Homo sapiens: one gene and its partners. The protein of the gene in region 1 purifies or fractionates together with the protein of each later gene. This does not show direct contact. Each region holds a gene or a part of one and is shown on either strand. Other genes may lie near its edges.

Region 1 (4,070 bases):
CAGATCCTTCATTCATGCATCCCCCTGTACAGCAGTATCTGGTTACTTACTTGTCACCTCAGTTTGACTGTAAGAGGCTTGGGGGCAGGTGACATATCTTATTGGTCTATATCCCTACCACCACATATAACAACTAAAATGAGTAGACACTTAAGAAACTATGCCAAGAATTAGCAAATAAACAGGACTGTTTTGAAAATGTCAGATGTATTGCATATGCTAGAATTTTTGTCCTGAAGAAGAAAAAATGTTACTCTTTAGCAGACAATTAGGTAGGTTTTAAGAAAATTGTAGTATATATTTTGACTGTGTCTTTATGAAACCAAGTAAAGGGAGGACATTTTCATTTGTTATCTGGATGTTTGTCCACCATTTTAAATTTGCCATTTTTCTTTTCTTTTCTTTCTTTTTTTTTTTGAGACAGAGTTTCACTCTTGTCGCCCAGGCTGGAGTGCAGTAGCGCGATCTCAGCTCACTGCAACCTCCACCTCCAGGGTTCAAGCAATTCTCCTGCCTCAGCCTCGCAAGTAGCTGGGATTATAGGTGCATGCCACCATGCCCAGCTAATTTTGTATTTTTTAGTAGAGACAGGGTTTCACCATGTTGTCCAGTGTGGTCTCGAACTCCTGACCTTAGATGATCTGCCTGCCTCGGCCTCCCAAAGTGCTAGGATTACAGGTGTGAGCCACTGTGCCCGGCCAATTTGCCATTTTTCTACATAGCCATTAGCAAAATAACTAAGTTATCAAGATTTGAGATCAGAGCATCTTTTAGCCCTTCCTTCACTGCTATTCTAACTACCTCAATTAATTACTATACCAGTATGATCCCTTCTTTAGTTTTTTTTTTTTTTTTTTTTTTTACTTTTAAGTTCAGGGGTACATGTGCAGGATGTGCAGGTTTGTTACACAGGTAAATGTGCATCATTGGAGGTTTGCTATATGGGTTATTTCCTCACCCAGGTATTAAGCCTAGTATCCATTAGTTATTTTTCCTGATCCTCTCCCTCCTTCCACCCTCCACCCTTCGATAGGCCCCAGTGTGTGTTGTTCCTCACCATTATACTAGTACGATCTAAAGTCAACTGTAAAATTATAAAGACAGGAACATGTAAAATAAGGAACCCTGTAAATTAATTTTGCAGTACATTTATATTTTCATTCCCTCCTCCCCATCAGTTTGGCAGTGAACCTGCCTTGCATCTGACAGCGAGCTCTAGGGTGCATTTATGCCCCCTTTTTGCAGATATCACTACGTAAGACCTCTGGGTTTAAGATCTGGCTTCAAGACATCTCTATTCATACTCAGTGGGGATCAACTTCACTGTGTAGTAGGAGGTGATCAGAAAAACCCAGTCTGTCTAAAATAACTTCCCCTTTTCCTAGATTTGCCAGCAGAACTGCTCTTTTGGATTTAAGACCTAATTGGAGGTCTTGTCTGTGGCAATTAAATGAATTCTTAAAATGTACCTGCTAGCTGAGGAGAGAGGTGAGATTAGTTCCTTCCCATTAACACCTTAACTCCCAGGTACACATTCACATGGATTAGTGTGTGATAATCTTGGTGTTGTAACAGTAGAGGCCCCAAAGACACTGAACAAAAACAGGGCATTTTAAAAACGTTTAAAAATATGAACTGTAAAGATGAACATAGCATTAGAGAAAGTTGAGAGAAAAAAGCACAATGTTCTTTGATTATTTTTATTAACTGTATTCTTTCAATGCTCACATTTTGCTTTTATAACCTGAAAAAATATCCTAAAACATGCTTTTTAAACCAATATTCCACATCTTGTGTAACTATTACCATTATTGTGTCCTTCCTTACAGTGTGTATATAAATATTTGTATATGGTTGGGATCAGTTTGTGATATATTTCCTTTTGCAACTTAACATTGCCAAGGCACTTAGCTGGTTCTCATACTAAGTTATTTAACTGTCTAATAACTTAAGTAGATGAACCTTAATTTATTTAGAATCCCGTATTGCAGAGTATCTTGGTCGTTTCTAACTTTTTAGTATAAATAGCTCGGTGGTGCACATTTCCACGCATAAACTGCCCCTCCTCCCTTCCTCCCATTCTGAATGACAGGGCTGGAGCGGGTGGGGGTCTCTGAAGGGTCCTGGGGATGTCTTTCGTCCAAGCTCATGCCCTTCCTAATTTTGCTTAGTCACTCCTTCATCCCACCCCCACACATACTCGACGTAGAAATGGCTGGGCATAAAGCCAACATCTGGTGACCAGACCAGGAAAGGGGCCAGGAGCTGGGGACCACCGGGTGAGAGGAGGTTGAGGGGTGCTAGCGAATCCCACCTACCCTCCACCCTGCACCGCAGCTCTGGGGGCGTCCTTGCCCAGGACTAGTTTCAGACCAGCCGGCGACTCGCAAGGCCAGGCTGCTTGGCCAGGCTGCTGACTTTTCCAAAACGCGAGGGGACAGTCCGAAGAGTTCCCGGACGGATTAGCCCAAAGAGCTGCGGGCGAGGGTCGGTTGAGGGAAGAAAATGTGTGCGCGACATGCGTCCGAAAGCTAGACTTCTGATCCTCGCTCCCCGCGGGGCTGGACCCGTGACCCTGAGCTAGTCGCCTGACTCGCCGAGCCTCAGTTTCCTCACCTGTGAAATGGGGATAATTGTGAAGATGAGGAGATAACTTGAGCACAGCACTCTGTGCAGCGCCAGGCACCGAGTAAGGGCTCCATAAACGCTAACCAACCCGTGACAGGGGAAAATTGAGGCTCAGGGCCATCCCGTCCAAGTGTTTTGCCGAGGCCCCAGGGCTTGGCTAGGGATGGACGCCGGGTGTGAACGGAGTCGCTCGCAGCCCAGCGGCCAGGAGCTCCGCGAGGATCGAGGGGACGAAACTCACCTTCTTGGCCCCCGGGCGTCCAGCAGGTGCCATGGTGCCGCGGCTCTGTGGGCGCCGGGTTCCCGGGCGCGCGGCCGTCTAGGAGCCCGCCCCCAGCCCGGGGGGAGGATCCGACCCCCGCCCCGCCGGCCCCGCGGCCTCAGGCTGCCCGCTGGCCTCGGAGCAGGCGCCTGCGCCCTCGGCCTCGGCCTAGTCATGCTCCGTCCCGGCGCGCAGCTGCTGCGGGGCCTCCTGCTGCGGAGCTGCCCGCTGCAGGGCTCCCCCGGGCGCCCGCGCTCTGTCTGCGGCCGGGAAGGGTGAGTGGGGCCCCGTCCTGCTCAGAGGCGACGGGGCGGCTGCGGGGGTGGGAGCCAGAGGCTGAGGCAGGCTCAGGGGTTAGGAGCGCTCTGGCCTCCAAGAAATAGGCCTTGATATATCTTCTCGAATTATCTTTTAATTATAAAGTGAAACAGTATCCAAAGGTTCCCCGTGTAAAGTCTCTCCTGCCCCAATCCCCTTGGCCAGTGAACAATTGTTAATAGTGTCTTCTGAATCTAACCAGAGACAGTCTACGCATAGGCAAACACAGGTCAGTATAGGTTTTCCTTTGGCTTTTTGACATCTTGCTTTTTACAATTATCAATATATCTTGGAGATTGTTCCATATCAGCACACACTGACTTGCCTTGTTCCTTTTAATGGCTGCATAGTTTTCCATCCTGTCAATATTCTACACTATCGTTAGTCTATTCATTAACATTTAAATGGTTTTTGGTTGTTTATTACTGCAAATAACGTGCATGTGAAAATTCTTAGGCATCTATCTTTGAGTACATATGGGAGTCGGTAGCAACAGTTTTTAAAGGTGAACTTGTTAGGGAAAAGGTTACGTGCATCTGAAAGATTGAAAGACAGCAACACATTCTCCAAGTGGGTGGCAAGAGTTTGCATGCGGCACACCAGTGTGTGTCTGTTTCCCACATCTTCCCTGGTTCCCAGAATAGCCCATTTTGTTATCTTTGCTAAATCTGATAGGTAAAAATGGCATGTCCTTGTTTTGATTGGTCTGTATTTAAATATGAGCAATGCTGAACATCTTTCGACTTCTTATATTTGTAGATTATTCCTGGTTGCCAGGAAAGGCTTGTTTATCAGCATCACTCAACATTATTATGAGTTGATTCGAATTTTATTTTATGTCCTATGACCTGAAATTCTGGAA
Region 2 (4,292 bases), on another chromosome or scaffold:
TCACTTGGCCAGGCTGGTCTCGAACTCCTGACCTTAGGTGATCCACCCGCCTCAGCCTCCCAAAGTGCTGGGATTACAGGTGTGAGCCACTGCGCCTGGCCGGGGTATGTACTTTCAACATAGATCGCTTGGGGTGACATTCTCTGTGCCTCAGTTTCCTCCTCTGTAAGGGGAGATAATAGTACTTTTCTTAGAGGGTTGTTGTGAGGATTAAATGAGGTAATACATGGATTGCTTATGACCAAGCCGAGGAAATGTTTGACATGCATTAGTATTTTGTAGATTGTTCCCCGAATTTGTCCAATAATTGATTTAGCCCAGTGGTCCCCAAACTGTTCCATGATAGGAGTCGTCGGAGTGGCCAGGCGTGGTGGCTCACACCTGTAATCCTGGCACTTTGGGAGGCCAAGGTGGGTGGATCACTTGAGGTCAGGAGTTCAAGACCAGCTTGGCCAACATGGAGAAACCTGTTCTCTACTAAAAATACTGTAATCCCAGCTCCTCGGGGGGCTGAGGCAAGAGAATCTCTTGAACCTGGGAGGCGGAGGGTGCAGTGAGCCGAGATTGCGCCACTGCACTCCAGCCTGGGCGACAGAGTGAGACTCTGTCTCAAAAAAAAAAAAAAATCACCTGAGGAGGGCTCTTCCTAGAAAAATCGGACTCAGTGGGTCTGTATGGAGGCCCAGAAATCCTGTTTTTAATCAGCACTCCAGGCCGGGAGCGGTGGCTCACGCCTGTAATCCCAGCACTTTGGGAGGCCGAGGCAGGCAGATCACCTGAGGTTGGGAGTTTGAGACCAGTCTGACCAACATGCAGAAACCCCGTCTCTACTAAAAATACAAAAAAATTAGCCAGGCGTGGTGGCACATGCTTGTAATCCCAGCTACTCAGGAGGCTGAAGCAGGAGAATCGCTTGAACCCAGGAGGCGGAGGTTGTGGTGGGCGAGATCGTGCCACTGCACTCCAGCCTGGGCAACAAGAGCGAAACTCCATCTCCCAAAAAAAAATAAAAAATAAAATAAGCACTCCAGGCATTTCTTATCCTCAGGGAAGCTTAGAGAGTACCGTGTATCATACTCTGTGAAACCCATGGAAGCTCACATTGGCTCCCACCTCTCCACACACACTCCTGCTCCCAGACTGCACTTAAAAACACCTGCGCCTGGAGGTAGCAGCCGCCTGAGCTACAGAGGAGGGCTTGAGAAGAGGGGAGAAGTGGAGACTCAGGGGACCTGGTGGCAGAGAGTTTCAAGCTGGAAAGTCAAGCCTGGCTCAGTCCACACAGACCTGCTGCTCTGTGGATTTGAGCAAGTTAATGAACCTCTTGGGGCTGATCCCCCACCTAGGGGCTGCTGTGAGGGCGCAGTGAGATCTCGAGGCCCACACATAGGAGCTGATTTTAATAGAGGAGGGAAGTCTGATCCTACACAGATTCCTGAGGAAAGGGAGACAGCAGGGGGTGGAGAAGGGCTGGAAGGGGGTAGTGGGAGTCCAAGTTTTTGGCACCAAATCAAAGGCACCTGGGGGGTGGTGGGGCTGGGAGCCGGGGGCCAGCTGGCCTGTCTGTCTCCCTGACCTCTCCCTGTTGCCACAGACCTTGTGGCCTGAGGCTGGACTATAGGTGTTTCCAGTGGCTGTCCAAGTTCATGAAGGTGTTAGTGTTTATTGGTGAACTTGAGGATGTTTGCATCCTTGGGGGTTGTTTCTGCTATGGGAGAAAGGGGATTTGTCCACCTGGTTCAGGTGGGAATCTGAGCCCAATGGGTGACCCTTCCGAAGAAAACTCAGATGGTCCTCCTCTCCCAGCACTCCCAGCCTTGCACTCTCTTCCCCTCCACTGTAGGGGTGGGGTCCCCCGGTTGGAGAAAAGCCTGGGGGCTAGCTGGGTGCTGCCCCCAGCTCCTCACTGCGTCCTCCCACTGAATCCCGAGAGGCATGCGCTATAAACCCACTTTACAGAGGGGAAAATGAAGCCTGAGGCCACGGAGCAGTGATGCGCAGGGCAGGGGTTCAAGTCTCATGAGGCTGGTAAGCCTGTCTGCTCCTGTGTCTTCCAGGGTCTCCTGGACCAAAGCCCCAGCCCCACCTACCCCTGCGGCCCCCGCCCTTGGGAAGTGAGGGAACAGTGTGGGAATGGAGGCAGCCCACCGGAAGACCTGGTTCCTCCGGCTAGAGTGAGTGAGTGAGTGTGTGTGTGTGTGTGTGCGCGCGCGCGGGCGCGCCGCCCTTGTTGAGAGACTAAGGAAGTAGTTTGCCCTCTCTTAACCTCTGTTGGCCGCTCTGTAAACTGCGGGCACACTCTGGCCTTCTCAGGTGGTGGTGAGGCTTCCCTGAGCTCTCGCCTGCGAAGTGGTCAGCACGTCCCCGGCAAGGTTCCAAGTGTCCTTGTTTTGTGCATCACAGGGAGGGCAAAGCTCACCTCACGCGAAGCGCCATGAACATCACTTTTACATGGAAGCCCAGCACCCCTGGGTTCTCCCTAAGCCCCTCCTAAGCCCGCCCACTTCCCGCCACTTTCAGGCTGCAGCCTCCGATGGCCCTCGTTTCTGCTCTTTCTACCGCGTGATAGCGGCGCGAAGCCCACCCAGCCCTGGGGGCGGAGGCCCGGTCTCCCCGCCATGGCAGTAAACCCCACTCTGCCAGCACACTGGCGGGTGTGGAGGGAGGGAGAGCGGCTGATCCCCTGGTCCCTAGATGGTGCACACGCCAGGAAGGGCGGTAGGGATACGGCACAGGTGTGAGGGTGCAGACGCTCCCCACTACCCTTTCCACCCCTCCCCCGCGCCCTCCGCTGCCTCCCTCACCCGGGCACGGCTGTCGCAGCAACTGGACAACGGTGACATTGGTGAGGACGATGTCGCGCTTCGACATGGCCTCTTATAAGGTTATCATTGGCCTGGACCTGCTGTGATGTTACCGAGGTGCGTGCGGAGCGCCAGGGCTGTGGGTCCTGGGCTAATTGCCCTGATGTCACAGCACCCAGTGACGTCACAGTACCCAGTGACGTCGCCGAGGGGCGGCGCCCAAGCCAGAGGCCTGACACCATCGCATCCCATCCCCGTAGAGGCATGGGACGTCAGCACGCTATGCATCACCGTTCCACGGCCACGCACTGCCGTCTGGAATGGAATCCCACTTTTTAAAATTATCATTTGTTTATTTATTTTGAGACGGGGTGTCACTCTTTCTCCTAGGCTGGAGTGCAGTGGTGCAATCATGGCTCACTGCAGCCTTGAACTCCTGGGCTCAAGCGATCCTCCCGCCTCGGCCTCCTGAGTAGCTGGGACTACATGTGCAGCCACCACTGCAGGCTATTTTTACTTTTTATTTTTTTGTAGAGAGAGGGTCTCACTCTTTTGCTCAGGCTGGTCTAGAACCCTTGGGCTCAAGCGATCCTCCCACCTCGGCCTTCCAAAATGCTGGGATTACAGGAGCGAGCCACCACACCCAGCCTGGAATCCCACCTTTTACACTGTTCCTGAAAGCCCTTTCCTCTTCTCTGTCTCTTGAAGCACACAGGTTCCATGCTGTCCCTTGGATTCTCCAGTGGAGTGACTCTTGCTGCCTCCGTATGCCTGGAAGGCCCACCCAGGGCTTCCCTTGGCTGCCTCTTGGTTTCCCACCCTTTAAGAGAGGCTTTCTACACTCTGCATCTAAGTTCCCTCCTTTCTCTGTCACTGTCAGCCGTCACCCCCTTCCCAATTTCTGCCCATCTTCCAGGAAGCCTTGTCTGACTTCTCCATTCTGAGTTATGCTTCAGTGTGCAAAATTTCTCTAGGGCTACACTGTCTATGTTTTTATTTTCCTTAGAGCACATGTCTCTCTAAAAATTGTTTGTTTTCTTGCCAACTGTCTCTGTCCACCAGACTGTAAGCTCTGAGAGGACAGGGACGTCATCTATGTCACTTCTGTATCCCATTGACAAGAAAAGTGTTTGGCACCTGAAAGGTGTTTGTGGGCTGGACGCAGTGGCTCATGCCTGTAATCCCAACACTTTGGGAGGCTGAGGTGGGAGGATCATTTGAGTCCAGGAGTTTGAGACCAACATGGGCAATGTGGCAAAACCCTGTATCTACAAAAAATAAAAAAAGTAGCCAGGTGTGGTGGTGCATGCCTGTTGTCCCAATTATTAGGGAGGCTGAGGTGGGAGGATCACTTGAGCCTAGGAGGTCAAGGCTGCAGTGAGCTGTGATTGTGTCACTGCACTCCAGCTGGGAGACAGAGCAAGACCCTGTCTGAAAAAGGCGTTAGCCCAATAAACTATACCTGAATGAATAAATGTCAATTCCTCA
Region 3 (3,644 bases), on another chromosome or scaffold:
AATTAATTTTCTCAATAGCTAACACAGGACCTGACATCTAGCAAAAGCTCAAGAAGCATCTCCTGAATGAATGAACAAACTGCAACAAGGTTCCACACTCCCAAAATAAAGCAAACGCCTTTATCCTCACTCATGCCCATGCCCATACACACACACACACACACACACACACACACACTCTCTCTCTCTCTCTCTGCTGGCCCCACACTCCCTCCCAGGCAGGCTCTCCAATAAACTCTTATGTACCCCTCTCTGTGCCCTCACCCATAAGCAGGGGCCCTGCCCACAGCCTCACCGTGGGCAGCTGGCGTGAAGACCACTGCACTTTGAGGAAGTTGATGTTGTCACTGCTCTGGGCATCATTCTCAAAGCTCTTCTTGTATTCTGGGGTGGGGGTGGGAGACACCCAACTGAGCACCACCTCTCAGCTTCCTTTCCCCCTAAGTAGGGGGCTGACTGCACCCTCTTGCCTCCCATCCTCCTTGGCCCACACCCAGCCCCTGCCACGCCTCTGACCCTCCAGGCAGGTAGAGTAGAACTCGATGAAGAACTTGGTGCGGCTGGCTGTCTTCACAATGGCCTCGATGCTCTCAAACTCAATGTAGGCCTGGTCTGAAGTCTTTGAGAGCCCTGAGGAGAAAGGGAGGAGAACAAACAGGAGGACTGAGAGGATCACAGGAGGAATGGGACAGAGAAACAGGGCCCTGGGACAGGAAATCAGGGGTCCAGAGCAAGGAGGCAGGGCCAGGAGGGGCCTCCCCAGTCCCAAGCCACCAACAGGGAATCTCCAGAGGCCAGACCCTGGACCAGAGCAAAGAGACAACCCAAGGATAAAAAACCCATTGAAGAGGGTGCTGGGGACCAGAATGCCTGCAGGATTCCCACACCTACAGGCATACTCAGGGACACACACGTGGCCCTAGACAGACACAGACACATAGATAGGTGTACACTCACGTATGCACACACACTCATGGGCACACAACTCTTGTGATGGCCCAGGCGCACAGACACCCTGACACATCACACCTTGAGAAACACTCCTGCACTCACTGGTACACACACCCACACACACACTTACATAGTCAAACCTATGTACATCCCGAGGCCACCACCTGTGCCCACCTAGATTATGCCACACCCACAAGCATATCTGGAACAGTCACCTTTCTTGGAGATGAACTGGGAGGTAACTCCAACCTCAAATGTCCCAAACACGGGGGAATGGTCGCTGGTGACGATGTCATCAGTGCAACCTGGGGAGAGGGGATAGGAATGGGGACTCAGGGGGAATATTCCCACCCTCGGCTCCCACCTCCCAAGGTTAGGGCAGAGTCCAGATGGTGACCACCCCAGATCTCCCATCACTCTGTCCGGGAGGCTCTGACCATAAGAATTGCAGATGATGTGAGTTTCAGGGTAGGATTTCCACAGAATCCGGTCACACCATGAGGGCACATTGGTCCGGACCTGGGGCAGGGGATGGCAGCATGGTTAGAGCTGACAGCTAGGAGGCTGCTTGGCATGGACCCCACTCCAGAGCTGATGAGTCCCCACACTTCTATTACTAGAGGCCCTAGCACCCACCTCCCTTCTTGGATCCTCAAAATACCCAGGATCACCCAAAGGCCTCAGAGGGGCCATGGAGGCTGGAGTGGAAGCTGCAGAGGCCCATACCCTTGACCCAAATTCTTGATTCATCGCAGGCCTGCGGTCCCCCAAGGCCCATGCCGTTTTCTTGGCTCACCCCAGTTGGCTTCTGCTTGTGCCAGGCATATGTGTCCCGGGAACCCCGCTCATAGCGGTAGGTGGGTGGGAAGGAGATCTCCTCCTCACCTAAGGAAAGCAGGAGACAGGTGGGGTTCAGGGCCCTGACACCCAGGGATACTGCAAGTCTCCTAGCCCTCAGATCACCACCTACCAGGCCCACACTCACTGAATCGAAGGAAGACCTTGTGCTTCTCCCGCTCCAGGTTGAGCTGGTCCACCCTGAGGAGGGGCTCAAACTCTTTCCTGCTGATGTAGTTCAGGATCTCCTGGGGTGGAGGACACAAAGGCTAGAAACATTCCTCCGGAGCCAGAGCCAGGGGTGATAGCCCATGTGGCCCTTAGCCTCCCTACAGCCATGGCAGGGCCCTGCTCGCACCTGGATATCCATGTCCAGGCGGTAGTTGAGGTCCCCAAACCAGAAGAGGTGTGTGAAACGCAGAGAGATGTCAAAGGCATTGAGCTGCCGGTCGCCCAGCGAGAGCAGCCGCAGGATGTCCAAGTAGTTTTGGTTCCTCCTAGGGTGAGGGGTGCGTGGTGGGGAGGGGTAGATCCCCAGGGTCAGGGCCAGAAGTCAGGGATAGGCATAAAGGGAAGAAGTCTCAGGAGTCAGGGATGGGGTAAAGATCCGGGCCCCTGGGGACAAGGTTAGGGTCAGGAACAGAAGGGTCTTGAATTGGGATAAGAGAGCAGGGGGTCTCTGGAGACAGGCCTGCGGGAGGGTCATGGGCTAGGGTATGGGAGCGGGAACAGGCCTCAGGTGAATGGGATGGGTGTAAAGAGACCATGGGAAAGGCGCCCCCTCACCGAGCCGTCTTCTCATTTCCCGAGGTGAGGTGACAATTCACAAAGCCAAATGAGGTGCCATTAAACATGAAGGAGACGCCCACAGCCCCCTTGTTCCCTGTTAAGGCAAGCAAGAGAGGAAGGCCTGGGTCATCCTCAGAGGGCTCCCAACTCTCCCTTCTGCCTCTCAAAGCTGCAGTGAGAGGATCCTCCCGCTGAGCCCACCAGACGCTGTGACATGGGCAGGCCCCTGCACACACCCACACCTTCCCTGGGGGAGGGGGGGGTCCTCATTGGGCACACATGGTCTGTGTGGATGGCCTGAGTCTGTCTGTATGTGTGAGCAGAGCCCCTGGAGATCACAGGGGACCCCAAGGGTGAAGCTGAAAGGCCCTGCAGATTCTGCGCAGAATCTACCTGGGAGAGCACCAGACCGAAAATCAGGAGACCTGGGCACAATGCCTGGCTCCACCACTTACTTGCTGTGTGACCTTGGGCAGGTCACTCAACCACTCTGGGTTTGAGTTTTATCATCTGTGAAAAGGGGGTAATTATCCTGGCCTTGCCTTCCCAGTGGTGCTGGGAGAGATTTAGAATATGAATATGTTTTTCAAAGTTCAAAGTACCCTATATATGGGGAAACTAAGATCACCAAAAATGGGGCAATCCTAGGCTTGAGAGGAAGCAGAAGCCATGGACAGAGAGACGCTGCCACTCTTGGGCACCTGCCAGCCCCACTTACCCAGGGTGTTGGCGATGCCAGTCTTCACACTGGACGTACTGACATGGCTGATACGGTTCTCGTGCTCTGGCTTGACCAGCACTGCCACCTTGATATTCCACAGTGATTGCATGGCAATCTGGGTAGAGAGTGCATGGTCACCACTGCCCTGCTGCACCCACTGCCTGCATTTCCCCCTGCACTATAAATAGACTTTTGTGTCCATCACAGGGTAGGAAGGCTTGCCACCCCTCTTCCTGACGGACTGGAGAGAAATGGTTCCTCTCGTGGCATGAAGGACTCAGGTCAGATCTCCCAAAGGATATGCTCAGGGACCAGAGAAAAAGCCAGTGAAGCTGTGCTCCCAGGG

What was found.
Region 2: the proteins of BHMT2 (region 1) and GAPDHS purify together in Homo sapiens (affinity purification with mass spectrometry; one large-scale study listed by BioGRID and IntAct). This does not show direct contact.
Region 3: the proteins of BHMT2 (region 1) and INPPL1 purify together in Homo sapiens (affinity purification with mass spectrometry; 3 studies listed by BioGRID and IntAct, with this or other methods). This does not show direct contact.

The regions. Positions count from the first base shown.
Region 1 is NC_000005.10:79,068,615-79,072,684, reverse strand, and holds the start of BHMT2 (S-methylmethionine--homocysteine S-methyltransferase BHMT2), read right to left. Parts: upstream 2,919-4,070; 5' UTR 2,903-2,918; coding exon 2,870-2,902; intron 1-2,869. Other genes in the region: DMGDH (dimethylglycine dehydrogenase, mitochondrial precursor), read left to right, coding at 3,065-3,165.
Region 2 is NC_000019.10:35,532,107-35,536,398, reverse strand, and holds the start of GAPDHS (glyceraldehyde-3-phosphate dehydrogenase, testis-specific), read right to left. Parts: upstream 2,944-4,292; 5' UTR 2,872-2,943; coding exon 2,805-2,871; intron 1-2,804. UniProt on the Homo sapiens protein: May play an important role in regulating the switch between different pathways for energy production during spermiogenesis and in the spermatozoon. Required for sperm motility and male fertility.
Region 3 is NC_000011.10:72,231,267-72,234,910, reverse strand, and holds part of INPPL1 (phosphatidylinositol 3,4,5-trisphosphate 5-phosphatase 2), read right to left. Parts: intron 3,414-3,644; coding exon 3,296-3,413; intron 2,672-3,295; coding exon 2,575-2,671; intron 2,286-2,574; coding exon 2,147-2,285; intron 2,037-2,146; coding exon 1,937-2,036; intron 1,837-1,936; coding exon 1,748-1,836; intron 1,471-1,747; coding exon 1,389-1,470; intron 1,257-1,388; coding exon 1,167-1,256; intron 631-1,166; coding exon 517-630; intron 385-516; coding exon 296-384; intron 1-295. UniProt on the Homo sapiens protein: Phosphatidylinositol (PtdIns) phosphatase that specifically hydrolyzes the 5-phosphate of phosphatidylinositol-3,4,5-trisphosphate (PtdIns(3,4,5)P3) to produce PtdIns(3,4)P2, thereby negatively regulating the PI3K (phosphoinositide 3-kinase) pathways.